2 linked regions of the Homo sapiens genome follow. The protein of the gene in region 1 purifies or fractionates together with the protein of each later gene. This does not show direct contact. Each region holds a gene or a part of one and is shown in the gene's direction. Other genes may lie near its edges.

Region 1 (5,400 bases):
CGGGGAGGATGTGTGGGTAGGGAGGTCACGGGCATCCAGGGTGGGGAGTGGAGGGGGCTCCATGCTGGCTGGGCGCGAGCTGCATTGGCACAAGGCATTCTCTACCCATCCAGGCTTCTGGAAAACCTTGGGTTGGACTCCGGGAGTGTGTGGTTCTTTTCCTTTGTAATTTCTCCTTTTGAATAGACCATTGACTTCCTGAACGACAACATTCGAAGAGGAATTGAGAACTACTATGATGATCTGGACTTCAAAAACATCATGGACTTTGTTCAGAAAAAGGTGAGCCAGGCGCTTTGGGGTAGAGATGCGCCTCCCGTGCTCTTAGCCCCCCATTCAGGCCCCTGCTCAAGAAGATGGGGTGAGGGACCAGGTGACTTATCCATTCCCAAAGCAGGTGGCTGGCCAGATTGGGAGGCAACAGTGAGCATGGATGGCCCACCAAGGATGGGGAAGCCAGGGCCCAACCTATTCAGCCAGTCCTCTGCCCACATTCCTGACCCAAAACCTTCACACCCTTCTGTTCCTCTCCAGTTACACTGGCTTCCTGCCCCATACCCCCAAATAAAACAAAGTCAGGTGTTGCTACAAGCAACCTTGCAGGGTCCCAGGGCACCACCCTCCAATGGGCAAGGATCCTCCTTCCTTGAGGTGTGAGCAACCTCAAGGGGAGTAACCTACCCCAGTCCAAAGCCCCCTCTGCCAAGTCTCTTCAGTGACAACTCACTCCTTGTCAAGTTAAAGACATCCCTGATTGGGAGAAAGTTCTTCACTAATTTCAGTTTCCCCCAAATATGGGACAGTGAACCAGACGCCTCTCTTACTTTCATGACACTTCCTTGAATGTGATGATGATCCTATTCCTTTTGGGACACCATCTCTCCCCTCTAGGTCCACCCAAATCTGTTGGTGCAATAATAATAATAATAATAATAATAATAATAATAATAATAATAATAATAATGGCAGTGGTAGGGCCAGCTGCTGTCCTGGGTGGCTTTTGTACATCAACTTCACTTGGTCCTGAGCCTCAGCTTCCTCACCTACATAAGGGGAATAATGACAGGAGCTCTTGGGGCGTCGTCATGAGGATTACCTTGACTTAATTCAGGAGACGTGCTTAGAACAGTGCCAAGCACAGGGTGAGACCACAGTGCCAGCTGTGGGGATCATTGGTATGTTCTCCTGGGTGAGGACAAGTAGAGTGAGGGCTGCAGGCCCACTCAGCCGGGACAGCACTTCCTGGGACATAATCTTGGGGGCCTCAGCTGGCCTGGATCCTTGTGCCAGCTCTCAGTGGGGACTAGCCTCTCCCCACATGCAGGGCCACTTGCTGTGGCCGCTCCCTTGGCCCAGACTTTCTCTTCAGTCACAACAGGTGCAGCCTCTGGAAGGTCTTTTTCTGCCAGGGATGTGCCTGCCAGCTTGGGCTGGGAGAGCTGACTTCTGCTCCGGGTGGAGTGAGATGTTTTTATTGGAACCAGCCTTTAGCTGGCTTGGGGATTTCATTTCTCCTGGCATAGAGGTAGGAGGTGATTAATGCTGAATGGGCACTTGCTTGGTGCCAGGTCCAGTGCTGAGTGCTTCATGCATGGCACTCTATGTAATCACAGCTCAGCTGTGCAGAGCTGCCATCCTTATTCTTGCTTTACAGACAACCATCTGAGGCTCAGAGAGGCTGACCAACTTGCCTGAGGTTGCACAGCAGGGAGTGGTGGTCTGAGGATTTGACCTTGGGTCTGTTCCATTGCAAGACAAATGCCCTTTGAACTACATTGCAGAAAGACAGTTCTAGGTCCCAAAACCTGGTGGCTTAAGGGGCACTGTGGGGACTCTGAAAGGTGTCTGGCTACCAGGACGTGTACTGCAGCCCTGGTTGAGCCCTCCAGTCCCAGCTCCCTGCTTCAGCTGGCTGGCAAAGCTTTGCATGGTCCAGCCTGTGCCGCCCTTTCATCCTCATGCTCTGCACTCTCTCTGTTCCAGGCTTGTTGGCCTCCGCACCTGCTGCTGAAATACAAGCTTGTTTCTGCGTGGGGCCTTTGCATGGGTCGTCTGGCTTCTTTCTGTTTCCATGTTTCAGATGAAATATCCTCTCTACAAAGAGCCCTTTCATGACCTGCCAACCTAGAGCTGCCCCTCCCCACTTTCCCCCTATTTCTCCATTTCCAGGTTGCACAGCACCTTTCCATCCAGTGCTCACTCTCTGTCTCTCCACTGGAATGTGTTCCACCTGAGCAAGGGCTGCCTTGCTTTTGCTCACCCTGTCTCTCCAGTGCCCAGGACAATGCCAGGCACATACCAGCCATCAGGAGGGTTACCAACTACTTCCTACAGGAGCAGGGAGGGGAGGCAGGGAGGGGCTCGGCTAAGGGGAGAGCTCCAGGCAGGTTGTGAGGTGTGGGTGCTCTCCTTGCTAAGGGCAGGGCCAGCTGAGCTGGACGGGGTGGCTCCTAGGGTGGGTGCGAAGGTTGGTTGAGGTGCAGGGACTTTCACAGAATCATGCTTGGTCTCTGGGACTTTAAGGGCCATCTTTTCCAGCCTAGCACCTGCATTTGGGGACACGAAGATGAAGAAAGTGGAGGCCAGTTGTCAAGGAAGGACCTTTCCTCCCAGTGCCTAGTCACTACCCTGATATCCCACCAAGAGGCAGCCCAGCCTTGGCTTCCATACCTCTCTAGTGACAGGGGGTTCACTACCCTCTAGGCAGCCATGCCACACTTTGACAGCTCTGACTTGAAAGTGTACAGCCTCTCCCTGCCCCAGGGTGACCCACATAATAAACTGCCTCCGTCTCCTGACAGGGCCCCTTCCTGTCGTCTGAGCAGGGCCTGGGCGATGACGGCAGCTCCTCTTTCCTGCTTGCTTCCCTCAGTTCAAGTGCTGTGGCGGGGAGGACTACCGAGATTGGAGCAAGAATCAGTACCACGACTGCAGTGCCCCTGGACCCCTGGCCTGTGGGGTGCCCTACACCTGCTGCATCAGGAACACGGTAGACACTGCTCCTGTGGGGACTGGGGGGCTGTCGGGGACCCCAGGTGGTATAAATGTTCTCTTTTCTCTCTTCCCAACTTGAAGATGGGTGGTGTGGGTGGATGGCAGGGAAGTAGGAGTTGGTGGCAGAGCGGAGGCTTTCCTGATTCTCAAGGGCTCCTGAAAGTGGAGCTTCTGGGGGTCGGGGGTAGGGAGACCATGTCTTTCTTAGTGGTGTTGGTTAAAATCTATTGAGCACCTACCTTGTGCAGGCCTGCTCTGGGCACTTTGGTGGTATTTACTCATTTAGTATTCACGACAACCCTGTGAGGTATGTACTGTTATTTTACCCACTTTACAGATGAGGAAATTGAGGCACTCAAAGGCTGGGTGTCTTGCCCAAGGTTGGCAGGGCTGGGATGAAGTGCAGGCAGCTGTTGCCTGAGCTACACTCTGGAGAACTGTGCAGGCCAGGTGAGGGCAGGAGGGAGAGGTGCCCAGGCCAGGGGAGCTTAGCGGGGGTAGCTGGCTCTGCAGCATTAGTGGAGGCAGGCAGGACCTGCACCTTGGGCATCTCCATTGGTCTTTGGCCTTGAGGTCCTGGTGATCATCAGCAGCAGAGTGCTTGGAAGGGGGTCTGGTGACGTAAATGCCATCCTCTTCCTCTCCCCAGCACGATCCTCTCGGGTCTGTCACCTTGGTCATTTGGGATGATGTCTTGTGTTGTCAGCGCTTAAGTGAAAGGCTTCATCAGTCCTTGTGTTTGACAAATGTGTCCAGAAACTGTTTCAGGATTGGAACGAGGTGGAGAGCTTTGCAATTACTCATGGCCCAGATAGTCATGGAAAGTTTTTCTCCTGACATTGCCACCATTCTGTGCCCACTGCTGGATTCTGTAAACTGAGCAGCTGCGGGTGGGGGCCTCGCCCATGAGTCAGAGAGCCAGTGCCAAGTGCACTAGCTCTAAAAAAGGCCGGGCCAGGAGGGAAGCTTTGTTTGGAAGTGTTAGCTGCCATTTTAGGGTAGTTCTCTGGGAAGTGGGGTGCTGAGGAGTAGCAGAGTTTCCAGAGAGGCCTGCGTGGGGTGATCCTGAACCTCATCACCCAGGGCAGCAGCATCTGAATACCTAAGCTGAGATGTGGAAGCCAAACTTGTATTCATTCATTCATTCATTCATTCAACAAATATTGGCTGAGAACCTACTCTATGCCAGACACATTTCCAGGTTCTGGGGGTGTAGCAAACAAAGTCTCTGCCCGCAAGGAGGTGACATCCTAGTGGAGAAAACTGACAAACAAAATAAGTAAAAGATAGAGGATCATAAATGCTGAGTAGAAAAAGAAAGTAGGGCATGGAGGATTGCAGTTTGGGATACTGAGAAAGGCGGGATCTGGGTGAAGCTCTGAAGAAAGTGAGGAAGGTGTCTGGGGGAGGGGCATTCCTGGCAGCAAGAACAGCTGTGCAAAGGCCCCAGGTGGGAATCACCCCAGGGCGTTTGAGAAATGCACAGAGTGGCTGGAGCAGAGGGAGCACAGCGGAGGATGGTAGGAGGTGGAGTCAGGGAGGTCATGGGTACCCCGAAGGCCACAGGCAGGACTGTGGGGCACCCTTGAGTGATGGACCATACAGGGCTGCATGGAAGAGGGGCACTCTGACTTGGTTTTACAAGAATCAGTCTGGCTGTTGTGAGGGACATGCTAGATGCAGGGATAGAGTTAGGGGCTGATATGCAGTGATCCAGGGGTCATAGGTCATCTTGTCCAGGAAGGTGCTCTTGGATCAACACCTGTGGAAGTGGGAGCCAGAAGCGGGATTGGGCAATGAAGGGAGTTGAGCAGTGATGCAGCCTCAGCTCAGTTCGGCTGGAGGCCTCAGCCACATCTATGAGGACAGCCCTTCAGAGTTGTCCCCTACTGGGGTGAGGGGGCCAGGCCTTCACACTCCCACCCACATTGACCAGGCATTGCATGAGTCCAGTGGTCCACCCAAGAAGGGACTTGCTGGCTCTGTTCAGCCAAGAACAGACTAATACAGCAAGAGGAAAGAGAGGGATTGATTGATGATAAGGAATTGGCTTGTGTAATTATGGAGGCGGGCAAGTCCCAAGATCTGCAGGGTGAGTCGGCAGGCTGGAGACCCAGGAGAGCTGAGGGTGGAGTTCCCATTCAAAGGCTGGTCAGGCTTCAAACCTAGGAAGAGCCAGCATTTCAGTTCAAGCCCGAAGGTAGCCAAGCAGGGAGAATTCTCTTATGGTCACTGAGGAGAGGGCAGTCTTTTGTTCTGTTCAGGCCTTCCCTGATCAGATGAGACCTCTCCCCCTTGGGCAGGGCCATCTGCTTTACTTAGTCTGCTGATTTAAACATTAGCCTCATGCAGAAACACCCCCACAGAGACACCCAGGATAATGTCTGGCCAAATATCTGGGTATCC
Region 2 (4,684 bases), on another chromosome or scaffold:
AATTTTGACTCATTTTCGAAAGTAAGACAAAGGGAAAATTTTTCATTGAAATAAGAACAGTTATCAGTCAGTCAACCATTTCTTGAGCACCAAGCACGGCGGGGAGTTTTTTTAAAGTACAAGACACAGAACTCTTACAGCTTATAATTTAGTTGAAGAAGTAAAGCTATAAACACCTTTAAAAAGATGCATATTCCAAAGTAATTGTTCCAGAGCTACCTGCCAAAGGAGGTCTATGGAGAAGGAGAGCACTTCCAGCTGTGATGGTCAAGGATTTCATGGAGGAAGTAGGGTTGAAACAGGTCTTGCCAGAAGGGCAGACTTGAGACTTGCTCTTCAGGCAAGGCGAGAAGAGGCCCTTGTTAGTGAGAGAACTATTATGAACAAAGGGCAGATGTAGGAAATCCCTAAGACAGTCATGAGGACCAGAAGATATGGCTGGGGAGGTAGAGAGAGGAATTTGTTTAAAGATCGCTAAGTCCGTAGCTGTGAAGTCTGTGTGTACATGTTACCAAGAAGGTTATAATGCTTCCCATCAGAGGAGAGCTAGAAAGATAATAGGTGCAGCCTTGCCAGAGGAGAGTTGGGAAGGTATAGGTGCAGGCTCACCCAGAGACGGAGGCCCTTTTAGTGTTCTGTTCTGTAAAACTTCTTGTACGGTAGATGGCACATAGTGAACGCTCCATAAATAACACGATTCTTATTGTTACTCATCTTCAAATTCTGTTATCCCAGGCTGTTGAATTGTCTTGGTTTCCTTTGCAAGAGTCAGTGCTGACTTTGTCCTGTTCTGATTGCTCATGTAATTCATGGTATCTTAGTCTGTTTGGGCTGCTATAACAAAATACCATAAACTGAATGGCTTATAAACAACAGAAATTTATTTCTCACAGTTTCTAAAGGCCGGGAGGTTCAAGATCAAGGTACCAGCAGAACTGGTGTCTGGCAAGGGCCCTTTTCCTTGTTCATAGACAGCTGTCTTCTCCCTGTGTCCTCATATGGCAAAAGGGGTGAGAAGTCTCTCTCAGGTTTCTTTTATAAGGGCATTTACCTTTGCCCCCATGACCTAATCACCTCCCCAAAGGCCCCACCTCCTACTGCCATCACCTTGAGGGTTAGGATTTTGACACACGAATCTGCAGGGGAACATAAACAGTCAGTCCGCTGCCTTGTTATTTCCTTTCCTTCAGCTTTATCTAAGCTTTCGTCTCTCTTCTACCACAGGTGGCTAGAGGTGCAGGTAGCTAATTTAACAAGTCCACAGCGCTGGGTGCAGTACCTCCTGCTTCTTCAGGAGTCCATCTGGCCTGGTGGAGTTTTGCCTAAGTTTCCACGGCCCGTAAGGACCCAAGAGCAGAAACTGGCTGCTGAGAAACAGGCTTTGCAGAGCCTGATGGGAGTCCTCCCAGGTAATTGGACCAATGAGATCAATTATACCAATCACATTTCTCTTCCATTCTGCTTTGCCACCATTACCCCTGCACCTTTTCCTGTTTGTAAAAGGGCCCTGAATGTGGCTAGATTCAAAACTCTGTTGACCCATCATTTCCCAGGCTAATAGGAAAATGAACAGGGCTGCAATTCTTTTATCCATTGCTCAGCTGATGCCAAGGGAATGGAAAGGAACTCTACAGCTGCACCCTAAATACTAGGTGACAATCCTGCAGATATTTAGGTTAATAACTTTCTCTCTACCTGCTGGCAGGTCTGGGGAAGCTCTGCCTGCAGGGACAGGTCTCAGAGCCATTTCCAGGAGATGAAGACTTCAGATTCTCTACCAATTCATAGCATTTTGGGACCAAGGAAGAAAATCACATGTCTCACAGAAGCTCCAACTTAATAAATTGCAGCCATTGAGTATGGTACATGGCCTTTAGCAATAAGTTAAAACAAAATCTGAGAAGGTTGTTTTTCCTTGCATTGTGTTTTTAGAGGGCCAGGAAGGCAGTTTGTTGCCTATGGCTGTGATAACCAGGAAACAATTGTGAACTTAGCTCTGGACAATCAGTTTTATTTACCCTTATTATTATAACTCTGTTTGCCAACCTAAACTGTTACATTGGAAGGAGTACCTGCATTTGAGTGACAGGTTACAAAATAATTTTTGAAGCCCATTCTTATGTAGACACCTAACTTGAGAAACATATTTTTCTCAGGTTTTTCCTGTTTTGTGAGGATTTTAGTTTGGCTGTATGGTTTAGAGGTAGGCCTGAAATACCTAACCTATGTAAAAACGGCAGAGATCCTGGGGAGAGACTGTCCTTAGAATCTAAAACTTCAGTGATAACACGCAAATTCCATCTGTTTTTTCCTCCTCAGATCTCGTAGTAGAAATTCTTGGGGTGAACAAATGCCGGCTGAGCTGGGGTCTAGTCCTGGAGTCACTACAACAACCCCTCATCAACAGGTAAGTGGGAAAATGTTATTCCAACATCAGCATAGTTACAGCCACCTCTGGTCTCAGAGGTATCCAAGGTTTCTGAGTGAAAAGCCCACATTCCAAAGAATAGGATTGTAGTCTTTACTTGCTCTGGGCACTGACTACAGAGTTTGACGTCCAGATCCACACACTCTAAGTAAAATCCACACCATCAGGCTTCTGAGCAGGTCGTCATGTGCTAGGAAATCACTCTTGGACCACCCACCATTTGTGTTTGGAAGAACTCTATGCAGGCCCCCACATGAGCTGCTGAAAATGACCTCTTATCCTCCAGGCTTGTTCAGCATACTTGCTCAGTGCTCTTTCCAACATCTGCCAGCCCCTGTGAATGCTCCAAGAGCGTACCCTGGCCTGTGTATCACAGACCATGTAAAGATGTTCACCATGAGCCCTGGCCTTATAGCAAAGCTGTGATTCATGTCAAGACCAGGAGTTGTCTTTGCTTCATATCAGGTAGACAAGATAGTAAGGTTGGAATTTCATAAAGGGACCAGAAATGCTGGGTGAAGAGTCCTAGAATAATCCAGAAGAGGTAGATTCCATCCCTTGGGCTGTTACTCTTCTGGAAGTATTGAGTAACCTTGCACTCAAACCCTACCCCAAAGTAGACTGTGTTCGTTAACTTCCTCAAGGATCCTGGCTTTACCTCACTGCCTGTAAGGCAGCCTATAAATTTAAGGTAATTAATTATGAGAAACAGCAGTAGTCAGGAGCTCTGAAAGTGTCTAGTAACCTGACATCTCAAGGATTTGTTATCACAGTTCTTCAGAGCAGTGCTAATGTAACTATGTAAAGAGAAATGGAATTTTATAAAACTTAGTCTTATATAAAACTAGTCTTATATAAAAACTGTTCTTGCCTTTATTAGGGTCAGAGGCTTTATTAGTTCAAAAAACATTAATTTCATGGCAGAGGTTTCATCAAGCTATTGAAGTTTAGGGTGTCGGTGATGGGGGAGGAGAAAATAAATGTCATAAACAGGATCTTGTGTTTCCTGATTGAGCCAGACCCTAAGTTTTTTGTCCATTCGTTTCAGGCATTTGATTTACTGCCTTGGGGACATCATCCTGGAATTCTTGGATCTCAGTGCCTCTGTTGAGGAGTCTGCTGCTACCACCTCTGCCTCAGATACCCCAGGCAACTCTAAGAGGATGGGTGTCTCCTCTTAGCTGGTTATTCACGCCTTCTTCCCAGGTCAGGGAAGTAGAGTTACTCGGCCACCAGAGACCAGTCAGGAAGCCCGTGCCCTCTTCAAGTAGGCTACAGCTAAGAAGGCCTAGGTTCTCGGTGGCTCACTTCTCTCCCACTTCTGCTCCATTTGTAGCAGGTGACAGGGGTCTGTGTGTCCCAGTTGTATGCACGTTTATTTCCCTGTTCCTTTTGTGATGTTGGGATTGTTGCTGGTGAGTAGATCCTGTTTCCTTTGGGAAAAGAAGCTGTGAGGTAGAGGAATGAACCCCTTTTGCTTCTCCTTTTGCCATCCTCCCTGAGATTGTTTGCCAGAATCCTGGCCCTGTGCACACATGTGCTTAATCCACCAGCACACAAGCTCTAGATAGAACAGGAAAAAAACTGTGGCCAGATTTCCTTGGAGGAGAAAACAACCTTCTCAGCTCTCTGTTCCTACCCGGAAACTAAAAATTCATTCAGGGCCATTCTCAAAAACCAGACTCCTGGGTCTAATCTAGTTTCCCAACAGTTCCAGAAGAAGAAGGAGGGAAGAAAATTTTTCAAGGAACTTCTTGCTCATGTGTTGCTGTTTCCCAACACATCAGCCTTATGGAAGATGTCATGAGGCTGCTTGCCTGGGAGGCTACACTTTCCTTTCCAGAAGACTTCAAAGCTGACTGCCAAAGCTTCTGGTAAATCCACCCCACCCTTCACACCCTTTCCTGAAAGGCATTTATACCACCCATTTTATTTATTGGCTTTGCTCCCAACCCCCTGCCCTAGAGCAATTGAGTTTTTGAATTTTTGACCCTCTCTCTGTCTTCAGCAAAACTGCATGACAAGCTGCATATTCAGCCTCAGTTTTTCCAAGGAGAATGGAAAGCACTTGCCTCCTGTCTTAAGAATGCACAAAGAGTAGGACTAGCAAGGCTGGGGGATGAAATCTCCCTTCCTAAGTCTTTGACAGAGAACTTTTATTATTCTGAACAGATAAGATTAGCAAACTTACAAGGAATAGCTTCTTATTTCCCATTCCTTACGGTTATAATCAGTCCTTTAACAACACCAGCATGA

Evidence for each region. Proteins that work in one complex are often made in the same cells at the same time.
Region 2: the proteins of TSPAN15 (region 1) and SNX19 purify together in Homo sapiens (affinity purification with mass spectrometry; one large-scale study listed by BioGRID and IntAct). This does not show direct contact.

Annotation. Positions count from the first base shown.
Region 1 is NC_000010.11:69,495,408-69,500,807, forward strand, and holds part of TSPAN15 (tetraspanin-15), read left to right. Parts: intron 1-186; coding exon 187-282; intron 283-2,801; coding exon of another isoform or gene 2,802-2,872; coding exon 2,873-2,989; intron 2,990-5,400. UniProt on the Homo sapiens protein: Part of TspanC8 subgroup, composed of 6 members that interact with the transmembrane metalloprotease ADAM10.
Region 2 is NC_000011.10:130,877,347-130,882,030, reverse strand, and holds part of SNX19 (sorting nexin-19), read left to right. Parts: exon of another isoform or gene 1-1,224; coding exon 1,225-1,409; exon of another isoform or gene 1,410-2,319; coding exon 2,320-2,407; exon of another isoform or gene 2,408-3,476; coding exon 3,477-3,609; 3' UTR 3,610-4,684. UniProt on the Homo sapiens protein: Plays a role in intracellular vesicle trafficking and exocytosis. May play a role in maintaining insulin-containing dense core vesicles in pancreatic beta-cells and in preventing their degradation. May play a role in insulin secretion.